Homo sapiens: one gene and its partners. The protein of the gene in region 5 interacts with the protein of the main gene of each other region in a pairwise test. Each region holds a gene or a part of one and is shown on either strand. Other genes may lie near its edges. The genes, in order: SPIRE1, THEM4, PCSK7, SERBP1, PECAM1, BOK and WT1.

Evidence for each region.
Region 1: the proteins of PECAM1 (region 5) and SPIRE1 interact in binary tests that used the Homo sapiens proteins (3 or more experiments, as listed by UniProt).
Region 2: the proteins of PECAM1 (region 5) and THEM4 interact in binary tests that used the Homo sapiens proteins (3 or more experiments, as listed by UniProt).
Region 3: the proteins of PECAM1 (region 5) and PCSK7 interact in binary tests that used the Homo sapiens proteins (3 or more experiments, as listed by UniProt).
Region 4: the proteins of PECAM1 (region 5) and SERBP1 interact in binary tests that used the Homo sapiens proteins (3 or more experiments, as listed by UniProt).
Region 6: the proteins of PECAM1 (region 5) and BOK interact in binary tests that used the Homo sapiens proteins (3 or more experiments, as listed by UniProt).
Region 7: the proteins of PECAM1 (region 5) and WT1 interact in binary tests that used the Homo sapiens proteins (3 or more experiments, as listed by UniProt).

The regions. Positions count from the first base shown.
Region 1 is NC_000018.10:12,446,009-12,449,060, forward strand, and holds the end of SPIRE1 (protein spire homolog 1), read right to left. Parts: 3' UTR 504-3,052; downstream 1-503.
Region 2 is NC_000001.11:151,899,512-151,903,015, reverse strand, and holds part of THEM4 (acyl-coenzyme A thioesterase THEM4), read left to right. Parts: intron 1-3,504. UniProt on the Homo sapiens protein: Has acyl-CoA thioesterase activity towards medium and long-chain (C14 to C18) fatty acyl-CoA substrates, and probably plays a role in mitochondrial fatty acid metabolism. Plays a role in the apoptotic process, possibly via its regulation of AKT1 activity.
Region 3 is NC_000011.10:117,215,074-117,218,577, reverse strand, and holds part of PCSK7 (proprotein convertase subtilisin/kexin type 7 preproprotein), read left to right. Parts: intron 1-9; coding exon 10-112; intron 113-1,333; exon of another isoform or gene 1,334-1,432; intron 1,433-3,504. UniProt on the Homo sapiens protein: Serine endoprotease that processes various proproteins by cleavage at paired basic amino acids, recognizing the RXXX[KR]R consensus motif. Likely functions in the constitutive secretory pathway.
Region 4 is NC_000001.11:67,407,306-67,410,356, reverse strand, and holds the end of SERBP1 (SERPINE1 mRNA-binding protein 1), read left to right. Parts: 3' UTR 1-2,547; downstream 2,548-3,051. UniProt on the Homo sapiens protein: Ribosome-binding protein that promotes ribosome hibernation, a process during which ribosomes are stabilized in an inactive state and preserved from proteasomal degradation.
Region 5 is NC_000017.11:64,384,360-64,387,863, reverse strand, and holds part of PECAM1 (platelet endothelial cell adhesion molecule precursor), read left to right. Parts: intron 1-3,504. UniProt on the Homo sapiens protein: Cell adhesion molecule which is required for leukocyte transendothelial migration (TEM) under most inflammatory conditions.
Region 6 is NC_000002.12:241,571,685-241,574,632, reverse strand, and holds the end of BOK (bcl-2-related ovarian killer protein), read right to left. Parts: intron 2,337-2,948; coding exon 2,211-2,336; 3' UTR 502-2,210; downstream 1-501.
Region 7 is NC_000011.10:32,411,537-32,415,040, forward strand, and holds part of WT1 (Wilms tumor protein), read right to left. Parts: intron 1-3,504. UniProt on the Homo sapiens protein: Transcription factor that plays an important role in cellular development and cell survival. Recognizes and binds to the DNA sequence 5'-GCG(T/G)GGGCG-3'. Regulates the expression of numerous target genes, including EPO.

The DNA of each region.
Region 1 (3,052 bases), on a different chromosome or scaffold from region 5:
TTTTTTTTTTTTTTTTGAGGCGGAGTCTTGCTCTGTCACCCAGGCTGGAGTACAGTGGCACAATCTCAGCTCACTGCAATCTCCACCTGCCGGGTTCAAGCGATTCTTGTGCCTTGCCTCCCCAGTAGCTGGGATTACAGGAGCACACCACCACGCCTGGCTAATTTCTGTATTTTTAGTAGAGATGGGGTTTCACTATGTTGGCCACCATGTACAAAAATACAAAAATTAGCTGGGCATGGTGGCGGGCACTTGTAATCCCAGGTACTTGGGAGGCTGAGGCACGAGAATCGCTTGAACTCCTGACCTCAGGTGATCCGTCTGCCTCAGCCTCCCAAAGTGCTGGGATTACAGGCGTGAACCACCATGCCCGGCCTAGACTGTATTTCTTCAAAGATCACAGGCTGCTTATAAAAGTACCCTGCCTTCCCAATTGAGGTGATTTCTGACAGCTAATTACCAAAAGACATCACCGTCTTACGATAGCAACTCAACACAGAAAGTCTGATGGAAAGCCATTTTATTTTTCTCTAAATTTTAAAATAGAAGACTTTAATGGAAAACATTTAGTACCATCATGTCACCCTGAATGCCAGCAATACCTCGACTTTTACACACGCAGGAAGCCTAGTAAAAGCCCCGTCAGTAGTACACATTTCTCTATGGTCCTTCAACAGTTTTGCATATACAAAATTTTCTGCTATTTTGCTTTAGCAAACAGCAATAAACTTTTGTGTTTCCTATATGACACCTAATATCCAGTCCTACAGTAATATAGTTAGAAAAATAAAAGGCTTAAAAATTTCATAGTACGAGTTCATGGTGCTAATAACAGAATCTCTTTAAACATAAGATCATTTTAAGCCTCTTACATAACCACCTTCTGGTTTCATTTGAAATCCTTAAGAATTAAAATCTAGTAAGATTGTTAAATCAACGTACGTCAATCATTCATTTTCACTTGCCTTGGGAGAGTTAATTCCCACTGTCCACTGAATGAATGCCTTTCAAATATTAATAAATATATTACAGTATTTACAAGCATTCTTATACACTCCGACACTGACAGGGAGTTAAGCCATGGAGAGGGAAGCACAGGTTTCCCAATAGTGTGACTTCATGACGTATGGGACAAAAGGAACCGGTGCTCAGGCCTGGAGGGAGCTGAGATGAGAGCAGGGATGATGGTTCAGATACGCACACATGCTCTAAGACACATCAGACTCTAGCTGAGACCAGCCAGACATTTCTTTTGTTGTTGGATTAGAAGTAAAACTGAACAAGAAACCAGGACACGGAAGGAAGAACTGGAAGCTATGCCTAAAGTCAGACCAGGCTAAGGATTTTAAAACCAAGCTCCACAAGCTCTTAGTGAATTACCCTGTGGAAACTATGTAGCTGACGTGAAGTGTGGAGGGGGGTGGTAGAAAGGGGGGTTAAATGTAAGACTTTGTTTTGGCAACAAAAAATGATAGTAATTTGATTTCTACAACTTTAACTGTGCCATGTGCCCTTTCTTACCCCACTTTCTGCAGATTGTTTCATATGAACGTACCCTCCACGTGACCTCTTTAATGCACTTGGCAAACTCCGTTAATGCTGTTGAAGAATGTATGTTCTGTGCTGTGGTAAGAGGTGATCGTAATGCCCAAATCATCCAATACACTATCATAAAGTGAAGTGAAAGACATGTACTAGATGTTTGCTTTGTGAATGTGAATGAAAGTCTTATTTTGGGGGTGTAGTTTCTTATGTTTTAATAAAAACAGTAGTCATTATTTTAAAAAGCACATTCTCCTAGGTGCATATTTATATACATATACAAATACCATTTCCTTCCCCCTTGTGCCCTTCTGGGTAGTCATTTTAAAAACTCAAGCCTGGGGTCATCAAAAGGGGTAGATTTATACTCCCACCTAACTGTCTGGAGTATAGAGTTCAGATAGTCTCTTAGGAAGTTTTATAAATGAGATTCACCCAGTACAATTCTGAAAGCTCTTAAACAGGAGTCTTTAAAATAATGTAAACACTTAAGTAATCAATAAGGGTTCTCTGGTGGCCCACTTTTACATGCAAATACAGACCAACTGTTAACATGCATTATTTTAGTCAACTGGTAAAGTTTATTTCATAAGTATAAGTAATTTTAAGCCTTTTACTAAACTGTAAATTTCAATCCATTAAAAACTACTACCGGAGCAGTTTTGAGGTATTACTGTTAATTTAGTATAGAAATGTTACTGTATTTTGATGTGGTATGAAATGCAGCCGCCATGCCTTTCATGAAACGGTGCTATCGTGGTGCTGACTACAGACATGTCCTATGGCTTTCAGGAAATTATTGTGCATGTGCATTAACAGATTTTCCAAACATTAATGACAATTTGATTGGTTAGTCATTTGTAAGCATACCAAAATAATACAGTATAGCCCACGTATGAGCCAAACACACTGAGACATTTGAGGCATACAATGCTACCCTCCAGTCTACTTTCGTCAGAAACCAAACCTACTCACTCAAATCATTTACAAGGAAAACTAGTGCAGAAAGCACCCCAAAAATGTTGCCTGTCAGCAGGTTAATTTTCTTCTAACTTTAAAAGAAGTAGATATTTTTTCTTTTAAAATTCATTTATAAAAATAAATTTTAGTTTGAGACCCTAGGTACCAAATTGTGGCTTAATTTACTCAAGATGGATGTACTACAAAGTTATGAAAAATGTAGCTGAAAACCCATGAGCTCCAGCTCATTTCTGCAGCGTGGCCAACAGCTGCCACTGTACACTGTCACAACCCTTCTCATAGGTAACCAAAATACGCTCAACGTCTTGACAAACTTTTAGCCTTCCTTTGTCCTGAAACTCCCACACAACTTTAATTCTTAGACCTCCATTATAAAACTATTAGTAACCATAATACATTCAAGATAGAGAATGAAGACCTGTCATCCACTCAGGAGACACTGAACCAGGGCACTGGGACAACACGGCCACTCAGGGGAAATAGTCACCCTTGTGGGTGTACAGCTCTTCAGATGTTTTGCACTAGAATG
Region 2 (3,504 bases), on a different chromosome or scaffold from region 5:
CTGTAGAGTTTTTTGTTTGTTTGTTTTTGAGACAGAATCTCACTCTGTTGCCCGGACTGGAGTGCAGTGGTGCAGTCTTGGCTCACTGCAACCTCCACCTCCCTGGTTCAAGCAACTCTTGTTCCTCAGCCTCCCAAGTAGCTGAGACCACAGGCACACACCATCTCGCATGGCTAATTTTTGTATTTTTTGTAGAGATAGGGTTTCACCATGTTGGCCAGGCTGGTCTCAAACTCCTGACCTCAAGTGATCCACCCGCCTTGGCACCCCCAAAGTTCTGGGACTGCAGGTGTGCCACCACGCCTCAGCTTCCATAGAGTTTAGTTTTGATCTGTTTTGTTTAATTTTTATTTTTTAATTTTATTTTTCCATAAGTTATTCAGGTACAGGTGGTATTTGGTTACATGAGTAAGTTCTTTACACTAGTGATTTGTGAGATATTGGTGCACCCATCACCTGAGCATTATACACTGCACCATATTTATAGTCTTTTATCCCTTATCCCCCTCCCATTCTTCCCCCCAAGTCCCCAAAGTCCATTGTATCATTCTTATGCCTTTGCGTCCTCATAGCTTAGCTCTCCCATATAATTGAGAACATACAATGTTTGGTTTTCCATTCCTGAGTTACTTCACTTAGAATAATAGTCTCCAGTCTCATCCAGGTCACTGGGAATTTGGGTTGGTTCCACGATTTTGTGTTGGGCATTTGGGTTGGTTCCATGATTTGCAATTGGGGATGATGCTGCTATAAACATGCATGTGCAAGTATCTTTTTCGAATAATGACTTCTTTTCCACACTGTTTTCCATAGCAGCTATACTAGTTTACATTCCCACCAGCAGTGTAGAAATGTTCCTTGATCACTGCATCCACAGCAACATCTACTGTTTTTTGAGTTTTTTTATTATGGCAATTCTTGCAGGAGTAAGGTGGTATCGCATTGTGGTTTTGTCTGTTTGTGCTCTTTCAGACTTTTTGAGGTAGGCATTTAGGGCTATGAACTTTCCTCTTAGCACTGCCTTAGCTGTATCCCAGAGGTTTTGATAGGCTGTGTCATTATTGTCATTCAATCTGAAGAATTTTTTAAATTTCCATCTTGATTTCATTTTTGACCCAGTGCTCATTCAGGAGCATGGTTTTTTTGTTTTTTTTTTTTGTTTGTTTTTTTCTGAGACAGAGTTTCGCTCTTGTTGCCCAGGCTGGAGTGCAGTGGCACAATCTCAGCTCACTGCAACCTCTGCCTCCTGGGTTCAGGCAGTTCTCCTGCCTCGGTCTCCTGAGTAGCTGGGATTACAGGCGCATGCCACCACTCCTGGCTGATTTTTGTATTTTTAGTAGAGACTGGGTTTTGCCGTGTTAGTCAGGCTGATCTCGAACTCCTGACTTCAGGTGATCCTCCCGCCTCAGCCTCCCAAAGTGCTGGGATTACAGGCATGAGCCACAGCGCCTGGCCTATTTGCATGGTTTTGAAGGTTCCTTTTTGGAGTTGATTTCCAGTTTTATTCCACTATGGTCTGAGAGAGTGCTTGATATAATTTCAATTTTCTTAAATTTATGGAGGCTTGTTTATGGCCTATCATGATCTATCTTGGAGAAAGTTCCATGCACTGTTGAATAGAATGTGTATTCTGTGGTTGTTGGATGAAATGTTCTGTATGTATCTGTTAAGTCCATTTGTTCCAAGGTATAGTTTAAATCCATTGTTTATTTGTTGACTTTCTGTCTTGATGACTTGTCTAGTGCTATCTGCCAAGACCAGCTCAGTTATGGAGACCCTAACCCAGCAGTGCTAGAGAAATTAAAGACACACAGAAATATAGGGTGTAGAGTGGGAAATCAGGGGTCTCACAGCCTTCAGAGCTGAGAGCCCCTAACAGAGATTTACCCACATATTTATTGACAGCAAGCCAGTGATAAACATTGTTTCTATAGATTATAGATTTACTAAAAGTATTCCTTAGGGGAAACAAAGGGATGGGCCAAAACAAAGGGATGGGCTCTGGCTAGTTATCTGCAGCAGGAACATGTCCTTAAGGCACAGATTGCTCATGCTATTGTTTGTGGCTTAGGAACACCTTTAAGCGGTTTTCTGCCCTGGTTGGGCCAGGTGTTCCTTGCCCTTATTCCGGTAAACCCACAACCTTCAGCATGGGCATCATGGCCATCACGAATATGTCACAGTGCTGCAGAGATTTTGTTTATGGCCAGTTTTGGGGCCAGTTTATGGCCAGATTTGGGGGCCTATCCCCAGCAGCTGTCAGTGGAGTATTGAAGTCCCCCACTATTATTTTGTTGCTGTCTATCTCATTTCTTAGGTCTGTTAGTAATTGTTTTATAAATTTGGGAGCTCCAGTGTTAGGTGCATATATGTTTAGGATTGTGATATTTTCCTTTTGGACAAGGCCTTTTACCATTGTATAATGTCCCTCTTTGTCTTTTTTGACTGCTGTTGCTTTAAAGTTTGTTTTGTCTGATGTAAGAATAGCTACCTATCTCTGCTTGCTTTTGGTGTCCATTTGCATGAAATGCCTTTTTCCACCCTTTAAGTTTATTTGAGTCCTTATGTGCTAGGTGAGTCTCTTGAAGACAGCATATAGTTGGTTTGTGAGTTCTTATCCATTCTGCGGTTCTGTGTCTTTTAAGTGGAGCACTTAGGCCATTTACATTCAATGTTATTATTGAAATGTGAGGTGCCATTGTGTTCATTGTACTCTTTGTTGCCTGTGTACTGTGGGGTTTTTTTTATTTTTTGTTTTTGCTTTTTAACTTGTATTTTTGTTTTATAGGTCCTGTGTGATTTATGCTTTAAAGAGGTTCTGTTTTGATGGGTTTCTGGGATTTGTTTCAAGATTTAGAGCTCCTTTTAGCAGTTCTTGTAATGGTGGCTTGATAATGGCGAATTCTCTCAGTATTTGTTTGTCTGAAAAGGACTGTATCTTTCGTTCATATATGATACTTAGTTTCACTGGATACAGAATTCTTGGCTGATAATTGTTTTGTTTGAGGAGGCTGAAGATAGGGCCCCAATCCCTTCTGGCTTGTAGGGTTTCTGCTGAGAAATCTGCTGTTAAGCTGATAGATTTTCCTTTATAGGTTGCCTGGTGCTTCTTTCTCACAGCTCTTAAGATTCTTTCCTTTGTCTTAGCTTTGGATAACCTGATGACAATGTGTCTGGGTGCAGATCTTTTTGTGATGAATTTCCCAGGTGCTCTTTGTGCTTCTTGTATTTGCATGTCTAGATCTCTAGCAAGACCAGGGAAGTTTTCCTCGATTATTCCCCCAAATATGTTTTCCAAGCTTTTAGAATTGTCCTCTTCCTCAGGAAGACCAATTATTCTTAGGTTTGGTAGTTTAACAAAATCCCAGACTTCTTGGAGGCTTTGTTCATATTTTCTTGTTCTTTTTCTTTCTCTTTGTTGGATTAGGTTAATTTGCATTTCTAAAAGTGTGTCCAAAATTTCCTGAATTTTTTATTGTTTTTTCTTTAAGCTATTTCCTTGAA
Region 3 (3,504 bases), on a different chromosome or scaffold from region 5:
CTTTCATAGATCTGGACATCTGTCCCTTACTTAGCATCCTACGTCAGTCCCGTGTTAAAAGAAAACAAGGCGATTCCGCAGTCCCCCCGTTCCCTGGAGGTCCTGTGGAATGGTAAGTAATCAGCACAAAGGGGGTTAATCTTAGGCCTGAGGTTTGGGGCCGGGTGACAAGGAAGTTAAACTCGTCCTCCCTGCCAGATTCTACCCCCTTTCGGAGCTGAGCTCCAGCCAAACCTGTGGAGTTTTCTTTGACCATTTTAGGACATGTTACTGCTTCTGAGTTGGCTCCCCCAGCTGCTTAAACAAGACCTTTCTCCTGGGTTCCTAGTAGTGAAAAGGAGCAGCAGAGCAACTGAGGAGGAGGGCGGGTGGGAGGCATGGGACTGGGGCTTGGGGAGGTCAGGCGAGACCGGGGTGAGAGCTCAGAGAAGCTCCTGTGACTTCCATGCTAAGATCTTGCCAGAGAACTCTGGTCAGTCCTCGGGTGTCTGGATGAAGTAAAGGAGTTAGGCATTTCTTCCTTTGATTCTCTGGCTTACCTAATAGAGAGAGTCAGATGTGGTCTGCTGGGGATGGACAGAGGGTTTGTAGAAGTCTCCTAGGCTTTAGTGACCCATCCTCTGCCTCCGCCTCCATGGTGGCCAGCATGAACCAGGATTGTCTGAAGGGGTTGTATCCTCTAAGCCAGCGACCTGGTTTTATGTTGAGCGAAGAGGCGGACGCCCTCCCTAGAGGAGAGTGCAGCTGGATCAGGATGCTTGTGCAGAGGATGCCCTGTCTGCACATTTACCAGCGTTTTCCCTACCCCCAGCTCCTTGGGGGATTCTTTTTCCTGGAGTCATTTACTACTTTTTGCAAAGGAAGTATGCTATGCTTAGTGCCCAAACCAAAACTGTCTTCACTTTTTCTGTCCTCCTAGAAAGTGATCAATTGAGAGCCATGGCAGGAGAAGGAATGGCCAGAGAAGGTTACTCAGAAGGGAGGATGAGGGGTGGCTTCCCTCAGGTGAAGGTTTCACAGAGAAGAATTGAGTTTTCTCCTCCTAACCACATCCAGCACTTGCCCAATTTCCCTCAATGTGGAATGAAACCCCTGGGCCAGTCACTGCATTTCCCATAAAAGGAATGTTATCTTGGAAAGGGCATAAAGCGTCAGCCAAGTCAGAGAAGTTCAGAAACATTTCCAGGAATGCAGTTCATTTGGAAGCCCCTGGCTTTGCACTTGCGTGTCTTAGAGATAGTGTGCCTTCAACTTTACCTTCTATCCAGGGCTATTTCCTGTTGCATCTGTCAAATGAGGGCAGTGACTTAAAAGAGTAATATGGTCTTCCCAGCTTCGTCATCCTCTGCTTCCTGCTGACCAGGGGACGTTGCCACGGAATGTCTACCCTAGGCATTGAGGCATCTGGCAACTGCTTGCTTGTCACTAAAAAGTAAGAGAAAGAAGGACAGATTGCCTGGGTGGAGAAGAGTGGGAGGTGGCCTAGTGGAGAAAGCAGGATTAAGAGAAGGGAGGGAAAGATTTAGGGAGTTTGGCTAATGGAGCCCTTTACCTGTTGGAAGGGCAGCAAGCAAAAGTTTTACCAGAGTTTTCCCTACCCCCAGCTCCTTGGGGGATTTTTTGTTTTGTTTCATTTTTGTTTTTGTTTTTTTGCCTTGAGTAATTTTGACATGCAGAGTTATTCACAACTTTTTGCAAAGTACTATTTTCATTGGCTTTTCAGAGCCAGTGAAGTTGCCTTCTCCTCCAACATGACCACATTTTCCTCTGAGCAGACAAAAACAGAACAAATAAGTTTGTGGGCTTGCTTGGAGGTTGAAAGAAATAAGTCCAGTTAAAATGAGAGTTGAGCCAGGTGCCCTGGCTCATGCCTGTAATCCCAGCACTTTGGGAACTTTGGGAGGCAGATAACCTGAGGTCAGGAGTTTGAGACCAACCTGACCAACATGGTGATACCCCATCTCCACTAAAAATACAAAATTAGCTGGGTGTGGTGGCTCATGCCTGTAGTCCCAGCTACTTGGGAGGCTGAGGCAGGAGAACCCGGGAGGCAGAGGTTGCAGTGAGCTGAGATCGCACCATTGCACTCCAGCCTGGGCAAGAAGAGGGAAACTCCATCTCAAAAAAAAAAAAAAAAAAAAAAATTGAGAGTTGAGCAGCTCAGTCCCAGGAAGTCAAGAAACCCCTTCTACAGCCAAGTTATGGTTGTTTTCCACCAGGACCTGGTTGATTCAGTGTCTGGGGGCTGGAAAGTGAACTTTTTATAAAGCAGAGGGAGCTGAACATCCCTGAGATAGAAGAGGAGGCTAAATACCTCTAAGACTCTAGAGTAGCATTGTCCCAAAGAATTTTCTGCAATGATGGAACTGTTCCATGTCCATGCTGCTCAGTTCAGTGGTCACTAGTCATCTGAGTCTATTGAACATTTAAAACATGACCAGTTGGCCGGGCATGGTGGCTCACACCTGTAATCCCTTTGGGAAGCTGAGGCAGGAGCATTGTTTACGCTCATGAGTTCAAGACCAGCCTGAACAACATAGTGAGACCCTATTTCTACAAAAAATAAAATTAGCCAGGTGTGGTGGTGCATGCCTCCTGGGAGGCTGAGACAGGAGGATTCCTTGAGCCCAGGATGCCAAGGCTGCAGTAAGCCATGGTTGCACTACTGCACTCTCCATCCTGGGTGACAGAGCGAGACCTTGTCTCAAAAATAATAATAGGCTAGGCGTGGTAGCTCATACCTAGCCTATAATCCCAGCACTTTGGGAGGCCAAGGGCAGGGGCGGATCACTTGAGGTCAGGAGTTCAAGACCAGCCTGGCCAACAGAGTGAAACCTCGACTCTACTAAAAAAAAAAAAAAAAACGATACAAAAATTGGCTGGGCACGGTGGCTCACGCCTGTAATCCCAGCACTTTGGGAGGCTGAGGCGGGTGGATCACAAGGTCAGGAGATCGAGACCATCCTGGCTAACACGGTGAAACCCCATCTCTACTACAAATACAAAAAAATTAGCCAGGCGTGGTGGTGGGTGCCTGTAGTCCCAGCTACTCGGGAGGCTGAGGCAGGAGAATGGCGTGAACCAGGGAGGCGGAGCTTGCAGTGAGCCAAGATCGTGCCACTGCACTCCAGCCTAGACAACAGAGCGAGACTCCATCTCAAAAAAAAAAAGTATATATATATATATATATATATATACACACACACACACACAAATTAGCCAGGCATGGTGGCACGTGCCTGTAGTCCCAGCTATTCAAGAGGTTGAGGCAGGGAAATTGCTTGAACCTGGGAGGCAGAAGTTGCAGTGAGCCAAGATTGTGCCATTGCACTCCAGCCTGGATGACAGAGCAAGACTCCATCTCAAATAATAATAATAAGGCTAGTATGACTAAGGAGCTAAATTTTAATTTTGTTATACTTCATTTTAATTTAGATAGCCATGTGTGGCTAAGGGCTACCATATTGAGAAGTGCTGCTAAAGAGCAAGACTGATTTTTCTCTC
Region 4 (3,051 bases), on a different chromosome or scaffold from region 5:
TGTTATTTTTCTAGTTGCCAGAGATGGTTGCACTGAAATAGAACAGGGAGTTGCATACAAAGCCTAAATGTGTATTGGATTTCGAAAATACTAGGTTGGTGCAATTGGTTTTGTACCAACCTAACATGTCTTTAGGAAAGTACCATCATGTGGAAGGAAACAACAGGTGTTAAAAGGTTCAAAGGAATGAGAAATAGGAAGTTACTAGAACCTAACTGATGTTGACCTTAGAGGTAAGATTATTCAGGTATATTAGTGGACCTCCAGTCCAATGGTATAGCAAATTCCAGGGATCTCAGGTGCATGCAATTTTACTTTCTAAAGTAAACACTTAGAAAATAGATTATAACCCAGACGTTTTGGATTATACTGAGACAAATATGTAAATAAGTTTTAGCAAGTCTGAACATGTACCAGCGAGATCTTCAGGTTAACTAAGAAAAGCCCAGAAACTTCATTATTTACTGTGCTTTGTATGGCATAACTGGTAACAAGGCAGTAAAATGATACATATTTGAACTGGACCATAGTAATTAAATGATTTATCAATATCATTTGCAAGATAATTGTCAGGTTGAGTTAATAGTAAGTGGCAGCTTCCCAGAAATTTGGGTTATTTGGCCTAAGCTGTGCCCTGGGATTACCTCTTCATCTTCCTTGACTTTTAAGTTCAAATTTGGAGGTTATGTGAAGTGATTGAAATAAATCTTTCAGGCTGAGGAAGTCGGTAATTTCAAGAATATAGTGAAAACAAGGTTGTAATCTAAACATGAGAAGCTTAAGTTTAGGAAATGGTTAGAATATAAATTGCTAAAGCCATCATGATTTTGGCCACAGATGAAAATATGAACACTGGAAATGAGCGCCATTTAAATGAGATGCTGTATGTAAGCCAGGGGTCAGCAAAGTTCAGCCTGTGACCTGGTGTGTGTGGGGGTGTGTGTGTGTGTGTGTGTGTGTGTGTGTGTGTCCGTGTCCCTGAGTTAAGAATGGTTTTTAGGCTTGTATAGGATTAAAAAAAAAAAAAACCCACAGAAAAATGTAGGCAGCCCAGCATAAGATACCGCCTTTCACAGAAATGTTTGCTGACCCCGGAACTGTCACTCTCGGGTTACAAGAGTTTGTTTCTTTGAAACAGTCTGGCTCTGTCACCCAGGCTGGAGTGCAGTGGCATGATCTCAGGTCACTGCAGCCTCCACCTCCCGGGTTCAAGCAATTCTGCCTCAGCCTCCTGAGTAGCTGGGATTACAGGTGTGCACCACCACAGACAGCTAATTTTACAGGTGTACACCACCACACCCAAGAATCACTTGAACCCGGGAGGTGGGGGTTGCAGTGAGCCAAGATCATAGCACTGTACTCCAGTCTGGGTGACACACTGTCTGAAAAATAAAAGTTTAGTTCTAGGTACAAATTAAGTGGTCTACCCAACAGGAAGCTGTGAAATTAGAAGTAATTTTAAAGCATACTTTACACCTCTATATAATCAAAGTAAGGGCAAGATAAAACTTGTTAGTAAAACATGTTTTATTATTTTTTAGATAGGTAGCCTGCAACATAAAATATATTTTGAAAGCTGTTAAGGGGTGTATAATCTGTTAAAAAATACCATGATTAGTATTTCACATTTAGTGACTCAGATCCCTTTGTGTAAGTCCTTTGCGTTGTGCAAAGAGGTTTTTCTATGAGATGAGAATTATGAACACTTCATATAGGTAAATTCCATAGGTTGAGCTGGGGCAGAAATTAATGGCTCCTGGAGATTGCATCTTTTTTTTTTTTTTTTTGAGCTTAGAATTCCCATTTGGACAGAATTTAGCTTTTGTGCTGTTGATTACTTCTGTACTAAACTGGTAGCCAATTGTTCACTTCTAAATGGAAGGGAAAAAGTTACCCACACAAGTTAGAAAATGATTTACCGAATTATTTTTTTGAGTTAGTATGTATATACTGTTTTAAATCAGTAATGTTTGTTCCTTTTGCTGCCCATTTGGGAGTATGTGGCAATTCCTAGTGCTCTTGTATGACATTACTCTTCTTGAGACTTGTATATGCAAGAAAGTATATATAAAAGATGCCTGGTGGTAACTTTGTATCTGAGTTCTGATTCATTATGGACTTTTAGAAATCTATTTAGATAATTGGTTCATACTAGGTGCTCAATTACTCTGACCTTGTGTGGCTTAATCCTTAAATAGTTGCTTTAGGTGTTACTGGGTGGAAGCATGGAAAGTGAAGGGCTAATATTAAGGATTTTTATGTATTACTGAGTAGGGAAAGTGGGAAGTAGCTTATCTTTGGACAGTTGTATTACTTTGCACTAATCACCTTGTTTGCAGTTGTAGCTGATTCAGTTCTAGATTTTAGGACCAAAAAGATCTCTAATTTAAAGAAACAGTTTTTATATACCTAGAATGAAGATTCTGTTTAAAGCGGTTTTGGTTAACTTGGTTCTTGACATTTGCCTAAAATTTTGTTGGATTGGGACTAAAATGTTCTATTAGCCAATGAATAACGTCCAAGTAAATTTTTGTTTTATTTTGGGAACTTTGTATATTGAATTCTTTGTTTTACACGTAACCCACAAAGAAATGTTGCTTCATATGGCAGCTGCACTCAGAGTACTAAGATAAGCATGTGTTTAGACATTTTCTAGACATTTTCAGAGTGCTCCGACAGCTGGGGTTCTTTTGGAAAGAAATGGACTGAAAGTGGGTGGGTTTTGTATTTTTCCCATTACATGACGACATGTTTAGGCCTTCATGATTGGTGTGAACTAAACACATATCTTTGTTTAGAGATAAGACAATTGGTTTGTGTACTTACCCTGAAAATTCATAATTTCGTGTTTTTTGTTTGTTTGTTTTTGAGATGAGTCTCACTCTGTTGCCCAGGCTGGAGTGCAGTGGCGCGATCTCGGTTTACTGCAACCTCTGCCTCCCGGGTTCAAGTAATTCTCCTGACTCAACCTCCTGAGTAGCTAGAATTATAGGCGCCCGCCACCACGCCCGGCTAATTTTTTGTATTTTTAGTAGAGACGGGGATTCACTA
Region 5 (3,504 bases):
ACAGCCTCGGCCCTTTCCCTTCCTTCCATCTCAGGCCTCTTTGTTCCCCTCCAGCCCGCACCTCACTGCAGCTGCCTCACCTCAGGAGGTGACGGCTGCTCCATCTTCACCTAGAAAACAGTCATCTGGAGGGAACTCCCTCAACTTCCCGCCTGGGCCTGGCTGCAGGCTTATCAGCCTCTCCACCCATCCTCTCGGTTTCCCTCCCGGCCTCGGAGGACACATGCACCCTGCTCCTCAGCTGATGGGGGCCAGCCAGGCACTTAGGCTGAGACCCTTCCTCACCCCCAGGACCCCACGCCTACGTGCATTCAAGTCCCTCTCCCCTACCACCACTTCTAGAATCTCTATTTCTGCTTCTGGCTCTGTTCTCTCAGTGAATGGGAACTCTTTTTTTAGGAAAAAGAAAAATCACAAGCAGACACCCACCCCCACCGTTTATCTGGTGTCCCCCTATCTGGCCTTTCTAGTTTCCTTTCTCAGTCGAACCTCTCTGAAAGTTAGTTTATAATCTGTGCCTACCCACCTCACCTCTCAGACACGCCTCGCCTCCCAGCAGCCTGGCCTCAGGCCCCACTTCTCCGGCTGTTGGGTCTCCTCTTGCTGAGGGGTCACCAAGGACCACCTGATGCCAAATGCAACGGACACTTCCAGCCCTCGGCTCCCTGTACCCCTTTCCTGCCTTTGACTTTTGATCGTGCCCCAAAGCCTCGCTCCTTGACCTTTTCCATCCTCTTCCCTGCTTTGTCTCCTCACTCTCTAACAAACCCTCTTCCTTCTCCCCCATGGCTGACTTTGGACTTACTTTGTCTTCTCCTGGAGTCTGAACCCTGTCCTGGTCTCTGCGGGCTCCTGGTCTTATCCTCCCTGGAGACCAGCTCCCCTCTCAACACCTCCACATTCCCCCCTCCTCCCCTAAGTTCACACTCCTCCCACCTTCACAGTCCAGCCCTGGCCTCTGCCCTGAGCCTCCAGTTAACACAGGCTGACCTTTGATGTCTCCTCCCAGTCCTCCTACTGGCCCCTCACACGCAGCTGCACCACCATCACTTTGTCTTCCTTCCTTATCTTTTTCTGTTTGTTTGTTTGTTTTTGTAGAGACTGGGGTCTCATTTTGTTGCCCAGGCTGGTCTCAAACTCCTGGGCTGAAGCCATCCTCCTGCCTCGGCCTCCGAAAGTGCTGGGATAACAGATATGAGCCACCACACCCAGCTGCGTGTGGCATTTTCTATTTTAGTTTGGTGGCACACACATCCTCCTGGGAATCTAATCCAGGAAGTTTATCTTCCATTCTTTCAACCCCATATCCAATCAAACAAAGTCTTTTTTTAAATTGTGGTAAAATACAAATAATATAACATTTATTATTAATGACATTTAGTACATTCACGGTGTTGTGCAACCATCACCATTGTCTAATTCTAGAACATATTCTTTCTTTTTCTTTTTTTTTTTTTTTTGACAGAGTCTCACTCTTGTTGCCCAGGCTGGAGTGCAGTGGTTGGATCTCAGCTCACTGCAACCTTCACCTCCCAGATTCAAGCAATTCTCCTGCCTCACCCTCCTGAGTAGCTGCAATTACAGGCACGAACCACCATGCCCGGCTAATTTTTGTATTTTTAGTAGAGACAAGGTTTTGCCATGTTGGCCAGGCTATTCTCAAACTCCTGACCTTAAGTGATCCACCTGTCTTGGCCTCCCGAAGTGCTGGGATTCATTCTAGAACATTTTCAACACCCCAGAAACAAGTCCTGTTGAGTCCACTCAGGAGATCCCCAGCCTATCCTTCCCTCATCCCCACTGCACCCGCCTAGCTCAGGCCTCATCAGCTTTCACCTGAACCACTTCCAAGCTGTTTACTGGCCTTGGGTGCTGTCACACCCCTCCTGACACCCTCAGGACAGGGCCCAGCTTGTCAGCACAGCAGGCCAGCCCTCCATTCTGGCACGACAGACCCAGCCACCTGGCCTCTCTAGCCCCACACTCTGGTTTCTGTAATGGGCCATGCCCAGAAGGCACGGATTTCTCACACCCTCGTGTCCTGGGACACGCTGTTCTCTTACCTGGAGTACCCCACTGCCTGTCCTTGGCCTGGCAGGCTCAGTTCAGTGGTCACTTCCTTCAGACTCCTTGACCTCTCCTGGGCAGCCCTTCCTCTTGGTGCTTACTGATATCACTGGAGTCCAGCTATGTGGGCCCCAGCAACCTTTGCTGTTTGGGACAGCAAGGATGATTTCTTACTTACTCTGTCAGCCCAGCACCTGGCACAGGTTCTCGACACATGTCTCATTGGATGGGAACTTGAACTGAACTTGGAGATGCTTGAGATTCGGGTAGGAAGATGGCTCAGCATGCTCTCTGATGAGCACAGAAGTTCATCAGGGACTCTATGCTTCGTGGCTCCCAGTAATTTTCCTGACGAGGGTGGGCAGCCCCTCCTTCTCCTGCACCCTCCACTTTCTCTCTGAGTCATTTCCAGGTTGAGGGCCAGGGGGCTGGCTGACTGATGGTGCCGCATGTTTCCAGGGAGCACCACCATCCACTGATGAGTGGCCTTGAGGTCAAGGTCCCACTGTTTTTAGCATGTTGGGGTTTGGCACTGTGGTCACTGGCTGTTCCGTGGTGACTTTCCAAATTTAGATCCTTCTCCGTCAACCTTCATCTCCCCGGGTTGAAAAGATCTGACCTCTTTAGGCTGTCCCACAGCCCCACCCTTCATCACAATAGTCCTGAAACTTTTTGGGTTCAGTAAGGAAATCTGTGGGCCTTCTCTCCAGAAAAAGCACACATTTGCACACAATTGGAGGTAGTTGATGAGCCTCCTAACACCCACCCATGCACCTCCCAGGGGCTGTGTCCCCCAGGTTGTGAACAGTCACTCTGTGTAAATAGTGAGACCTACAGGCAGTAATTCAGTTTGGCTGTGCTTGGCTGGTTTATTTAGAAAGATGATAATGTTTTCCATATTATCAAAACAAGAATCAGGCAGAGACTTTTGAAGTTTGGTTGCGTGGTATATTTGTTACCTATTGCTGCATAACAATTTACCTAAAACTTACTGGCTTAAGATAACACAGATTTATTATCCTGAAGTTTCTGAGGGTCAGGAATGCAGGAGTGGCTGAGTTGGGTGGTGCTGGCACCGGGTCTCATTAGATTGCAGATAAATTGTTGGTCAGGGTTGCGGTTATCTGAAGGCTTGACTGAGTCTGGGGAATCTGCTTCCAAGCTCACTCCTGTGGCTATGGGCTGGAGGCCTTAGTTCCTCATCCTGGGTACCTTCCACAGGGCTGCTTATGCTATGACTGCTGGCATTCCCCAGAATGAGGGATCCCAGACAGGAGAGAGAGTGATCAGGATAAAAGCTGCATTGTCTTTTATTACCTGATGGAGTATTTTGTTGGTTAATGTTAACGTGGGAGGTGACCACGTGTAAGTGTGATGAGCAGAGGGCAAGGACCATTGGGGGGGGCATCTTGAAGGGCTTCTATAGCAAGGGAGGTG
Region 6 (2,948 bases), on a different chromosome or scaffold from region 5:
CTCAGCCTCCAGAGTAGCTGGAACCACAGGTGCAGGCCACCGTGCTTGACTAATTTTATTTTTTAGAGATGGGATCTTGTTATGTTGCCTAGGCTGGTCTTGAACTCCTGGCCTCAAGCCATCCTCCTGCCTCCCAAAGTGCTGGGATGACAGGTGTGAGCTACTGGTCCTGGCCCATTATACTCTAGTTTGATGAAAGTGTTCAAAAGCCACCGAGAACCCTGCCTTCTGCAAGTATTTAATTAGGAGCACCCAGTGGTGATACTATGCATACCTCTATTGCCACATCACACTATGGACTATCGGTGTTCTTTTTACTACTGGAAATCAGCATTAGTGCCTTTACATCTAATCAGGATAAAGACCCAATTCCAGGAACCCTCCCATCCCCACCCTCTCGCCACTCCCCACCCTCAATTATTTTCAAGCAAACCCTCCGCACCTCTTACCATGTTGTGTATAGGTAGAAGCTATTTAACACACACACAGTGACATTCTGTCTAAAATGACAACGATCGTTTGGAGAAGTTTATTACCACCCCTACCCTCCAGTGGGATCTCAATGTCACGATGAGTCCGGGGCTGGCTTTCCGCCGGGACCCTCCTGTCCTGGCACATGGCCCACCCCAGCACGAAGCCTGGCCGGGAGGGCTCAGGTGGGTGGCTGCTAGGCCAGGCCTCCCCAGAACGACTGCCCCATGTCCAGCCTGTATCTCCTGAGTGCCATGCTGCACTGGGGAGGGACAGGGCTGGCTCGGGGCTCCAGGAAAGATGCCTCACATGTGCCTAGAAATGTAGGCGTCAAGGGAAGGCTGTGTGTGGGGGCACCTGAGGGGCTGGGCTTCCCAGGCATCTGAGTTCTTACGGAGCCCTAATAGGCACATCCCCAAATGGTTGTATGAGGATGAGCACAAAAATAGCAGATGGGGTCACCCTCACCCTCCACTGACAATGGACTGGGATCCGACTCATGCAACATTCCTTCTCGGCCGTAGGTTCCACATCCATGGGTTAGGTGTGCTGGCCTGGAGCCCGCCGGCCCCGGTCCCCACCGCACAAGGACCCCATCACAAGTGGGTGTCATACTCTTCCTCCAGAAACGGATTAAGCAACCAGCATGTGAACCTTACGCTCTGTTTACAGGCTGAGTCCCCACAGCTCTTCCAGCTTCAGCCAGGCCAGGGTCACCTTCAGATTGAATGTGCAGGGCCCCTGAGGACTCATGTCCTGAGATGGCCCTTCTTCCTGGGATGGGACCCCCGGGTTCAGGTGAGAGGTGTTCCCGGGCCCCTTCACCTGGGGCTCAGGTGACAGGAGGTGTTCCGGGCCCCTTCACCTGGGGCTCAGGTGAGAGGAGGTGTTCCGGGCCCCTTCACCTGGGGCTCAGGTGAGAGCAAGTGTTCCGGGCCCCTTCACCGGGGGCTCAGGTGAGAGCAGGTGTTCCGGGCCCCTTCACCTGGGGCTCAGGTGAGAGCAAGTGTTCCGGGCCCCTTCACCAGGGGCTCAGGTGAGAGCAGGTGTTCCCGGGCCCCTTCACCTGGGGCTCAGGTGAGAGCAGGTGTTCCGGGCCCCTTCACCTGGGGCTCAGGTGAGAGCAGGTGTTCTGGGCCCCTTCACCTGGGGTTCAGGTGAGAGCAGGTGTTCCCGGGCCCCTTCACCTGGGGCTCAGGTGAGAGCAGGTGTTCCCGGGCCCCTTCACCTGGGGCTCAGGTGAGAGCAGGTGTTCCGGGCCCCTTCACCTGGGGCTCAGGTGAGAGCAGGTGTTCCGGGCCCCTTCACCTGGGGTTCAGGTGAGAGCAGGTGTTCCCGGGCCCCTTCACCTGGGGCTCAGGTGAGAGCAGGTGTTCCCGGGCCCCTTCACCTGGGGCTCAGGTGAGAGCAGGTGTTCTGGGCCCCTGCATCTGAGGCCTGGGAGTTGACCCTGACTTCCTGGCCCCAGAAAGAAAAGGGAAAACACAGAGATCACAGGAGAAGGGACACAAGCGGGGAGGGTCGCAGGCTGCCCCAAAGCCCAGCTCCAGGCTCAGGAAAGCCCCTCCCCACTCACCCCTTCCGGAGGGCCTGGGTCTGCGGAGGAACGGGGCTTAGGGGGTCTCCGAGGGTTAGAGTGCTCCAGGCTCGGGTGGGGAGGAGGAAGATGTGTTCGGGTGCTGAGGGCCTCCTGCGTTGGGCCCAGAGGGCCAGGCTGCGGCCACTGCCAGGTGGGCAGCTCATCTCTCTGGCAGCAGCACGAAGAAGGCAGCCTTCAGGAAGCGGCCGAAGCTGCAGAGTGCAGCCACCAGCCAGTGGGAGCGGAGGCCAGGGTCTGTGCTGACCACACACTTGAGGACATCAGTCTGGGAGGGAAGAGGGAGACCGTTAGAAAGCAGAGCCAGCACCGCCAGGCCCCCAGCACCGCCAGGCCCCCCAGCACCGTGCACCAGAATATCAGCAAAATTGCATGAAGGGAATGCAGGAGACTGTTCGGGAAGGAGGTCTGTGGCCTGGACTGAAGGCTCCAACACAAGACCAGACCCGATGCCGTGCACATTCAGACAGTGTGAAGGGCCAGGAGGCACGGGAGGTGGGGACAGATGGCAGCCAGGCAGGCCGGCCGGAGGGCCCCTGCCGAGCAGGAGAGAGGCCTTCATGGCCCTCGCTGGGGCTCCAGACATCCAGACCAGGGTGCCAGCTCCCCTCGGCCACCTGCCTGCTGCCCCCCAGGGGCTACAGGTATGCCGCCGTCATCCTCCTGTGGGGCCTTGGAGCCTGGGCTACCAGGAAGGGGCAAACCCAGCTTCATTCAGACTCTGCCTGGAACAACAGCAGGGACTGCGTTTCCGGAAGCCCACGGACTCCCTGGACTCTGAAGTTCCTTCTGGGGAAGTGAATGAACGTCCAATTCTCTTATTCCCTTCACTTCCTGCTAATACATGAAGGCTTTTCCCTGCAGCCTGGACCTGTGGCCT
Region 7 (3,504 bases), on a different chromosome or scaffold from region 5:
TCTAGGCTTTTGGGGGGAGTTTTAATTTCCTTCTCTGCGTAGTTGTATTTTCTAACTGTTCTATAATTTATACACATTACTTACATAATAAAAAAATTCAATACATTCATCAAATGCATGTCCAAAAATAAAAGGATAGAAAAGGCCAACAGCCAGGGAGGAGAAAGAAGAAGCAGAAAAGTGAGAAGCAAAGGAAAGAAGCTTCCGAATCAGTCCACACTAAGTGAGAGGGACACAGAGCTAAGTCACGAGTCTCCATCTTTATCAAACCCTGGAGTCCCATTCTTCGTTCTGGTTGGCAGGGTTAACAGACCTCAGGCCAAGTCCAATGCAAGGCAATAATAAAGAAAAAAAACTCTTTAAATGGCATTAAATGAAACTTTAAACGGTGGAAAATTAATAACTTGTTGCTGGGGGTGGAGATGGAGTAGGCTCGGCAATGCTGATATTCACAGAACTGAGGCTCCCCACCTTCACTTTGCATCTCAGGCTCCGGGAGCCACTTAAAAGCAAGCTATCTATTTCCAAGAAGTAAATCTCTTGGACGGATACCTTATGTTCACGAGCCCGCGAGGGAAGGTGCTGGGCTGTGTATTGGAGCTCCCAGCCAGAGAAGACAGCTATCTCTTTTGGCACAGGTTCTCAGGGATGAGACCATGTCTAGCGGGGATTTTCTCCAGATTCGACAGCCTTGGCCCTACCAAAACGCACAGCTTTGTTTTCACCACACATCACTCATTGTTGAGTCTTTTTTGTTTTTCCTCTCAAGCATCCACAGGTTGAATACTGTGTGTTCCCAACAGCCTGTGAACTTCTTGGACCAGCAAAGGGACATTCATTTTGCTGAGCACTCCTTTCACATTTCTATTGTGTTCGATTTCCCACTCCCCCTACCCGAGTCCCCAGAGAATAACTTCTTCCTTGTTTTAATAACTTGGATCACAGTCAAGGTTGATGTGTTTCTCCATTTTGCAGGATATTTTCTTCAGAAGAGACAAAACAGAGGCCAACAGGGTAGGAGAGGCTTGTTCGGAAATCAGCAGCCATTGAGAACACACAGAAAATGTTTTCAAAGAAATAGAAAGCAGATAACACAAGGCACCATCAATAGAAGGCTTCAAAATGGTGGACTCATACTCAGAAAGATTCCCCAGCAACGTTTTCTCCCAGGGACCCACTTTAAAAATCTAATTTCATTTGTTTGGGGGTGAGGGAGAAGAAAGTACTTTCCGTAAAGTACCTTCTCACTGACTTAAATTGAAATACATTCTCCCATTGGAGGTCATAAAAGTAGCTGTGATCCCAGTGGGTATGCAGAAATTAGAAAATGAGTAAAGGGAGAAGGAGGAGAAAGGAGCGGTTCAGTCACACAAGTATATCCCACCTCTAACACAGCAAGTTTTCATTTCATCTGCCCATGTTCTTTATAAAATCCTATCCCCACCCATTGTAACACTGCTCCCTGACATCTAATGAAAGATGTCTCCGTGGACTTGCTTGGGATACAAGGAAACAAACCTATTCTTTGTGAAGCCACTTTTTTGAAACGAAACATTTTCAAGGAAAGAAGACCCGAACCAGCATTTAGTGGGGTTTAGTCTGAGGTGCATGATCTTTTAATAAAAAATTGATAATGCCTCTTTTTTATGAGTGATATGGAAATTACATCTTTCTTCTCTAAAACATGAACCAAATCACCAGTTTTTCCTGTAATAGATCAACCTTGTCACATGATTTTTCTTAACATTGATTTCAAACAGTGTCAAGACACTAGTTATGAATGAACACAAAAAGTTATGTGTCTGAATTTGTCTTCATGGAATACCTTTTCTCAAATGTATTCTCCATATTAATACTTTTCATACCATGGCAAAAGAAAGTAAATCCAGTATCACAAAGAACAATGACCCCAACCCAGATTGGTCTCCCCTGGGGAAAGGCCAAACTTTCTACTGGAATTACAGATTCAACTAAATCCAGTTCTGGGCTGTTCATGAGTTTGGAGGAGACAGCCAAGGTGTCACCATGTTTGAATGCTAAAAGTGAGGCAAACTGTGGGTCATGACACATCAGTGGGTTGTAAAATCAATCTAGTACATCACAATCAGCATTTTAAAAAATGAAATAGGATAGAGAGAAAAAGTCAGCATGCAGAGCATGTCATAAGAGTATTGCTCAGTGAAAATCTATGTTGTGTGTGTGTATGTGTGTGCACATGTGTGTATATGGGATCTCACTGTAAAGGGTATTTCTAACTGTGGTCACAGTCTAAAAGGTTTCCACCCATTTAAGAAGCTCTAATCTAGGGCCCAGGTCCTGGAGTCAGACAGAACTGATTCCAACATGGCTCTGCCACTCACTTACTATGTGACCTTGGTTAGATAGCTTAATCTCTCCACCTCCTCAGCTAAAAAATTGGATGTGGCCATAGTGTCCTGGGGGTGTTGTAAGATCAGATCAGAAGAGGAAACATGTACAGCCCCTCACACGGCACCCAATACTGTTTATATACATCCTTAGATAAATGTCCAGTTCACAAAATGGAAGCGGAAATTCGTGGATTTACAGTATGTTCTACAGTGTGAGAGAAGATGGTAGGCAATTAGCTAATTGTAATTTTTGCTCTGCAAAACAGTTGTTCTTTTGTGGAACTATCTGTTGGGCCATCTAGCCCTTTTTATAACAGCTCCCTGAATAAAGTTAATATTCGAGAAATATACATATATATTGTGTTTGTTTGTTTTGTTTTGTTTTGTGGAAGGGTCTCACTCTATCGCCCAGGCTGGAATGCAGTGGCCTGATCTTGGCTCACTGCAACCTCCGCCTCCCAAGCTCAAGCAATCCGCCCACCTCAGCATTCCAAGTAGCTGGGGTTACAGGCATGTGCCACCACGTCTGGCTAATTTTTTTGTATTTTTTGTAGAGAAAGGTTTTCACCACATTGTCCAAGCTGATCTCAAACTCCTGAGCTCAAGTGATCCACCCACCTCAGCCTCCCAAAGTGCTGGGATTATAGGCGTGAGCCACCATGCCAGGCCAAGAAATACATTTTTAGTCAGGGCGCAGCAGCTCATACCTGTAATCTCAGCACTTTGGGAGGCCAAGTGTGGCGGATCGCCTGAGGTCAGGTGTTCAAGACCAGCCTGGCCAACATGGCGAAAACCTGTCTCTACCAAAAATACAAAAATTAACCAGGTATGGTGGCAGATGCCTGTAATCCCAGCTACTCAGGAGGCTGAGGCAGGAGAATCACTTGAACCCAGGAGGCAGAGGTTCCAGTGAGCCAAGATCGTGCCACTGCACTCCAGCCTGGGTGACAGAGTGGGACTCCATATCAAAAAAAAAAAAAAAAAGAAATACATTTTTATTTCAGAAATCCTTTCTAAGATGTAAGTAACGGACCAATGAAAACTCTTCTCATTTTTTTCTTATGTAGGATTGAACAGAACAAATTGTTCACACTTTGTGCTTCATCCTTATAATACAGCTTCTGCCTCCTCAGCA